Regions from separate parts of the Homo sapiens genome. Here region 1 is linked to region 2. Evidence: fine-mapped expression QTL. A gene starts in region 2. The other region holds a variant in brackets. All regions are shown on one strand. Distances are from middle to middle.

Region 1 (2,922 bases), 190 kb before region 2:
AGCAATGGGGAAAGGATTCCCTATTTAATAAATGGTGCTGGGAAAACTGGCTAGCCATATGTAGAAAGCTGAAACTGGATCCCTTCCTTACACCTTATACAAAAATTAATTCAAGATGGATTAAAGACTTAAACGTTAGACCTAAAACCATAAAAACCCTAGAAGAAAACCTAGGCATTACCATTCAGGACATAGGCATGGGCAAGGACTTCATGTCTAAAACACCAAAAGCAATGGCAACAAAAGCCAAAATTGACAAATGGGATCTAATTCAACTAAAGAGCTTCTGCACAGCAAAAGAAACTAACATCAGAGTGAACAGGCAACCTACAGATGGGAGAAAATTTTTGCAATCTACTCATCTGACAAAGGGCTAATATCCAGAATCTACAAAGAACTCAAACAAATTTACAAGAAAAAAAACAAACAACCCCATCAAAAAGTGGGTGAAGGATATGAACAGACACTTCTCAAAAGAAGACATTTATGCAGCCAACAGACACATGAAAAAATGCTCTTCATCACTGGTCATCAGAGAAATGCAAATCAAAACCACAATGAGATACCGTCTCACACCAGTTAGAATGGCAATCATTAAAAAGTCAGGAAACAACAGGTGCTGGAGAGGATGTGGAGAAATAGGAACACTTTTACACTGTTGGTGGGACTGTAAACTAGTTCAACCCTTGTGGAAGTCAGTGTGGCGATTCCTCAGGGATCTAGAACTAGAAATACCATTTGACCCAGCCATCCCATTACTGGGTATACACCCAAAGGACTATAAATCATGCTGCTATCAAGACACATGCACACGTATGTTTATTGTGGCACTATTCACAATAGCAAAGACTTGGAACCAACCCAAATGTCCAATAATGCTAGACTGGATTAAGAAAATGTGGCACATATACACCATGGAATACTATGCAGCCATAAAAAATGATGAGTTCACGTCCTTTGTAGGGGCATGGATGAAATTGGAAATCATCATTCTCAGTAAACTATCGCAAGGACAAAAAACCAAACACCGCATGTTCTCACTCATAGATGGGAATTGAACAATAAGAACACATGGATACAGGAAGGGGAACATCACACTCTGGGGACTGTTGTGGGGTGGGGGAGGGGGGAGGGATAGCATTAGGAGATATACCTAATGCTAAATGACGAGTTAATGGGTGCAGCACACCAACATGGCACATGTATACATATGTAACTAACCTGCACACTGTACCCTAAAACTTAAAGTATAATAATAATAATAAATAAATAAATAAATAAATAAATAATAAAAAGTAAAAAAAAATACAAAATACCTCTGTAACCAAGAGGTATTTTGTGTCTGTGGGTTATACAGCTTAAGGTATTATGCATTGATTTAAAAATTAATAAACATGAAAACACAGATATAGCACTTAGAAATGAGTCCAAAACTATGCAGGACTACAATCCTTTTTGATAAATCCCCTCTTAATTGTAAATACCTCTGTGAAACTTGCCTGGTCTACACTTATAAGACACAAGAAGCTACTTATATGTCTCAGGACATGGGTCTGGTCCAAATACTCAACTATTCACAGATATCAGATACCAGTTTTGGTCCTGGCACTCATCCATGAGTTTCTTATGAAGAGAAGAGAAGAGAAGAGAAGAGGAGATTACGAAATAAAAATGTGATGTACACCTTAATGTGTTATCATTTCCATCAATGAATTTTACAACTTTTCAATAAAATGTTTCTTTTTACTCTGATATCTAGAAGTTCTATTCAATGAACACTGAAAAGATATAGACAGATTCATGATAGCTAGATAGATA[C/G]ATTAGACATGAAAAATTAAAACCGTGAATTATAGCTCTGTCATTTACTTGCTCTATGACTATTAAAAAATTATATCCACAAAATTTTATTTCTTTATGTTTCATGGAGATAGTAATTCCCAGCACAAGTTAAGCAAAAAACTATGTTCAAATTCAATTACTACAGAAATCAAAGCTTTTACTATATGGACAAGCTGAGTACTCTGGCTCTGGAAATGATTAGGAATAACACACAGGCCAATAATATTTGTGGCTCATTAAAATGGGAGAGGGCACACTGAATGGCAAGAAGAAAATCAAGAGACATGGAACCATGGAAGCCAAGGGAATTGAGTGTTTAAAAAAAGGTAGACTGGTAGGCTGTGTCAAATAATCCTAAGGAGTTAGATCAGATAAAGACATCAAAGTGTCCATCAGATTTAACAACATGGACATCATTAATGACCTCAGTGAAGCTGGTGGTGTCAGAAATAAGACTGAGTGAATTTCTATTGAGAAAGTAAAGATGGAGAGTGTGTTTTTTTAAACAGAATAAGACAAAATAAAGGCCAGTCAGAAAGCTATATATTTAGTTTCTATTACAGACTGATCTACCAGCTTTCCAACTGGTAGATCCCTTAGTCCAGCTCCCATCTAGGTCATTAATGGCCTCTGTCACTTACTAGCTATGGAGCTATAGAAGAATCAGTTCACCCACCTGATTCTGTTTCCTCATCCTTAAAATGGTTTAAAAAATAGTAACTACTTCATAGAGTTATTATGTAGATTAATGGCTAGAATGCTTATGCTGTGCCAAGCAACATACCTGGCACATAGTAGCTGTTTAATAAACATCAGCTAGTATTATAAGAAAGGAAAGAAATTGGCCAAATTAAGATCATGTAACTAAGATCAAAATTCTCCTGATCCAAATGGTGTAGGAAAACCATCTAGGACTAATTTCTTTATTTTTTATTTTATTTACCTTGTCCTGGTAGTTACATATCCAATCTGTTCCTTTCTCAGATAAAATCAGTGTGTTTTACTTTTGAATGTAGAGTTATCGATAACCTTACTCTCTGAGAAGTTGCATCTTACCTGTCTAGTTGTGACTGACACACAGTT
Region 2 (2,922 bases):
CAGTGTGTCCTGAAAGGGCAAACCAAGCTACAAGCAACTCTAAAAGACTACTACTGTATGGGAGTGGATTATGAAAGTGTTTCTTAAATATGAGAGCTCAAGTTTTTCTTTCAGCGACTGAGTTAAAGCACGCAACTCATTTATCATGAGACTTTTGCTAGGCAGTGTACTATGTCCACTCAACACACATCATTTTAGGCAATCATCTGGTTAAAACGTTTAATAGTATGGCATTCACAAACCCATTCTTCAGAGTTGACATTCAATTAATGGTTTGAATGTCGTTTCCAGGGCAGTCAGGAGTATTTAAAGGCTTTTCCATTGTTTTCGGAAGAGAAAGAAAACTTCCTAGCCTAACTTACTTACCCAGAGCCTTGCTCCAGAGGGGGCAGACAAAGGGTAAAATCTGGGCAGAGAACATTAGTGGATATGAGAACGAAAGAAAGTGCTGCAAGATCTTGCAGACAGCTGAGTTCCACCTTCCACTCTACTGCCGAACAAAGTGAGGCAGGAAGAGGGTAGGGACTCGCTGAAAGCTAAACACCAAGTCAGTGACAGATCCAGGGCTGTAAAGTCCGACCGAGATTGAAACAATGTACACTGGGCGTCAGTCCCAACGCGAGCTTGCTCCAGCTCTTCCAGCTCTTCCTGAGCGCTAGGCCCATCCGGCCTCACGCTGATCTCCGGGCAGACTCTGTCGCGCAACTGGCACAGATCGTGACGACAACCCTGCGGCAAGGCAGGAGTGGCCTTCCTCTCCGCCAGGGTTAAGGTGAGTACCACCGCCCTTGGGCCCAGCAGCCCGGGTGAGAGCCTCCGCCGCCCACTGCGACAGGCCTGAAAGCGAGCGCCTGGGTAAACCCACCCGTAGCACCCATGGGGACACCCCTTCCCTGACCCACGGGACGGAACCCACCTGTGCTGGAGGTCGTGACTGCTAACTCCGCAGAGTGGGCAGAATTCCAAGCAAGGAGAGTCTCGGGAGGCAGCCTTTCACCCGCCTTTTGCCTTTTCACCCCCAAAACTGTCGGCCCCACGCTCCCCTCCCCCAGCCCGCTCGGGCCCAGCGGAGAGCCTGTAGGCCCCGCCCCACTCCTTCCGGCCGTGCAGGGTGGGTGCCTCTGGCGCCCGGGACTTCGCCCGGTGCTAGGGCGTCAGTCTCCCATTCGGAAGGACTGGGCCGGGGCACTCTATTCAATCGCCTTTAGTGAACATACTTGAAGCTATAGGTGCAGGGATGAGAAAAAACAGGCCCATAAAGCTATAAAACCTGGGTCCCCTGCCTGCCATTTCAGTGCTCCTCCCGAGTCCTCCCACTACGCTTCTATTTATGGTAGTTTATCCAGGTTTACTAGAAGTAAAATTCTACTACCTTTCCACCATTTTCTTGAGTTTATGGAAGTCATATACCGCTCATTACTCCCATCGATTCAGCTGAGCATCTTGAACCCAGGGTCCAGATACAGTGCTACATACAGTGAGCACTAGAAGGGAATACCCATTAGGAATGAACACCTTATGCAGGTAAAAATTTAAGAACGATACATATTACAAAGAAGGACCAAAAAGTATACTGAAATAGTATATGCAATGGAAATCCAAGGCAGATTTAAAAAATGAGAGTAAGAACAACAAAAAAAATCAAATGCATATATACTGAAAATGGGAAATTGTGCAGTATTATATTTATTCGAGATTAAAAGTGTTAATCTAATGTCAAAAAAGCAATAAAGGAATTGGTTTGTAGAAGTCAGGATCAACAAAAGAAGAAAAAGCCTCCACATCTTTGCCCTGGAATTCCTTCTGCCATGAATGCTCTTACCCGGCACTTGTTTATTTGGAAAACGGCTACTCGTTATTTTTGACTCAATTTAGATAGCACCTCCTCTGTGAAGCCTTCCCTGTCTTTCCCAGATAAGTTTGTATATTTTTTTTCCCTAGGTCCAGTATGCCCAATGGATCTCGTACAGGCCTCAAGAGTACCACTTACTCTAGATTATAATTTCTCTTTCTGCATGTCTTTGTCCTCTAATGAATAAGTAGCTTCTTGAGAGCAGAAAACTTGTGTTTTTCATATTTGTTCTCCAAGCACAGAGTCTAAAATGTCTATATATTTAATAAATATTTGTTAAAAAATTTCTAGAACCAGTGTGTAAACAAAAGGACATATCCAGAGTGTGAATGTAACATAAAGAGGAAAAACTAAGTACAATGAGAATCTAGATTTAGTCTGGCTGGTATTCATTCATGCAATAAACATTAATGAGTGCCTACTGTATGCCAGGCACTGTACTAAGATCTGGGTGTAAAATGATAAACAAAGCCCAGATATAGTCCATGCCCTTATGCCCTTATGTTTAAAGAACAAATTGGAGTTGGCCAGGCAAATGGGAAAACAAAAAAAGTTTTGGGCAGAAAGAACAGCATGATCCAATGTCCTGTAACAGGAAGATCATAACTGTAGCAATTAGAGTGAATGAGCTCACTTAAAGCTAAGCTGAAATCAACACAAAGTACTCAGAAAAGGCAACAGGTTGATAGACAATACCTGTTTGTTTGAGTCAGTAAAAGAAGCAAGTTTCCTTAATAATAGTAACCAACATTTATAAAATGTGCACTATATGCTAAACACTGGGCTAAGTGTTTGTTTTATATCAAACACTTAAGGTAGATGATATTATTTCTACTTTAAGGATAAGGCAACTGAGGCACAGATAGGTTAAGCAATTTTCACCAGGATCACATGGCAGATAAATTTCAGAGCTGAGATTCAAACCTAGGTAATTTGGCTCCAGACTCTAGGGAGCCTGGATATTTTACTTTTAATAAAATATAAATTTTACTTGTAATAAAATAAAAGTCAGATATTTTACTGTTTCCTCTCTCTGTGTGTGTGTGTGTAGCAGGTCACATGGTGTATGG

Which allele goes with the higher level. Alleles are on the strand shown, and positions count from the first base shown. SD is a standard deviation of normalised expression in the study named.
For the expression in minor salivary gland of the gene that starts at base 1,077 in region 2, C is the high allele of the variant in region 1 and G is the other (small effect, 0.28 SD a copy in GTEx).

The links. PIP is the estimated chance that this variant, and not a neighbour inherited with it, causes the effect.
Region 1: its variant is the best candidate, but not a certain one, in a credible set for the expression of TMLHE in minor salivary gland (GTEx, PIP 0.84).

What each region holds. Positions count from the first base shown.
Region 1 is chrX:155,426,853-155,429,774 of GRCh38, forward strand. No RefSeq gene overlaps it. Among named protein-coding and RNA genes, the nearest start is that of MIR1184-3, 29 kb to the right of the region's middle. The variant C/G (reference allele first, on the strand shown) is at 1,819.
Region 2 is chrX:155,611,876-155,614,797 of GRCh38, forward strand. TMLHE (trimethyllysine hydroxylase, epsilon) reads right to left here and starts at 1,077. Exons shown (of 8, transcript NM_018196.4): 1 at 917-1,077. It overlaps SPRY3 (sprouty RTK signaling antagonist 3), which reads left to right and starts at 711. Exons shown (of 3, transcript NM_001304990.2): 1 at 711-772.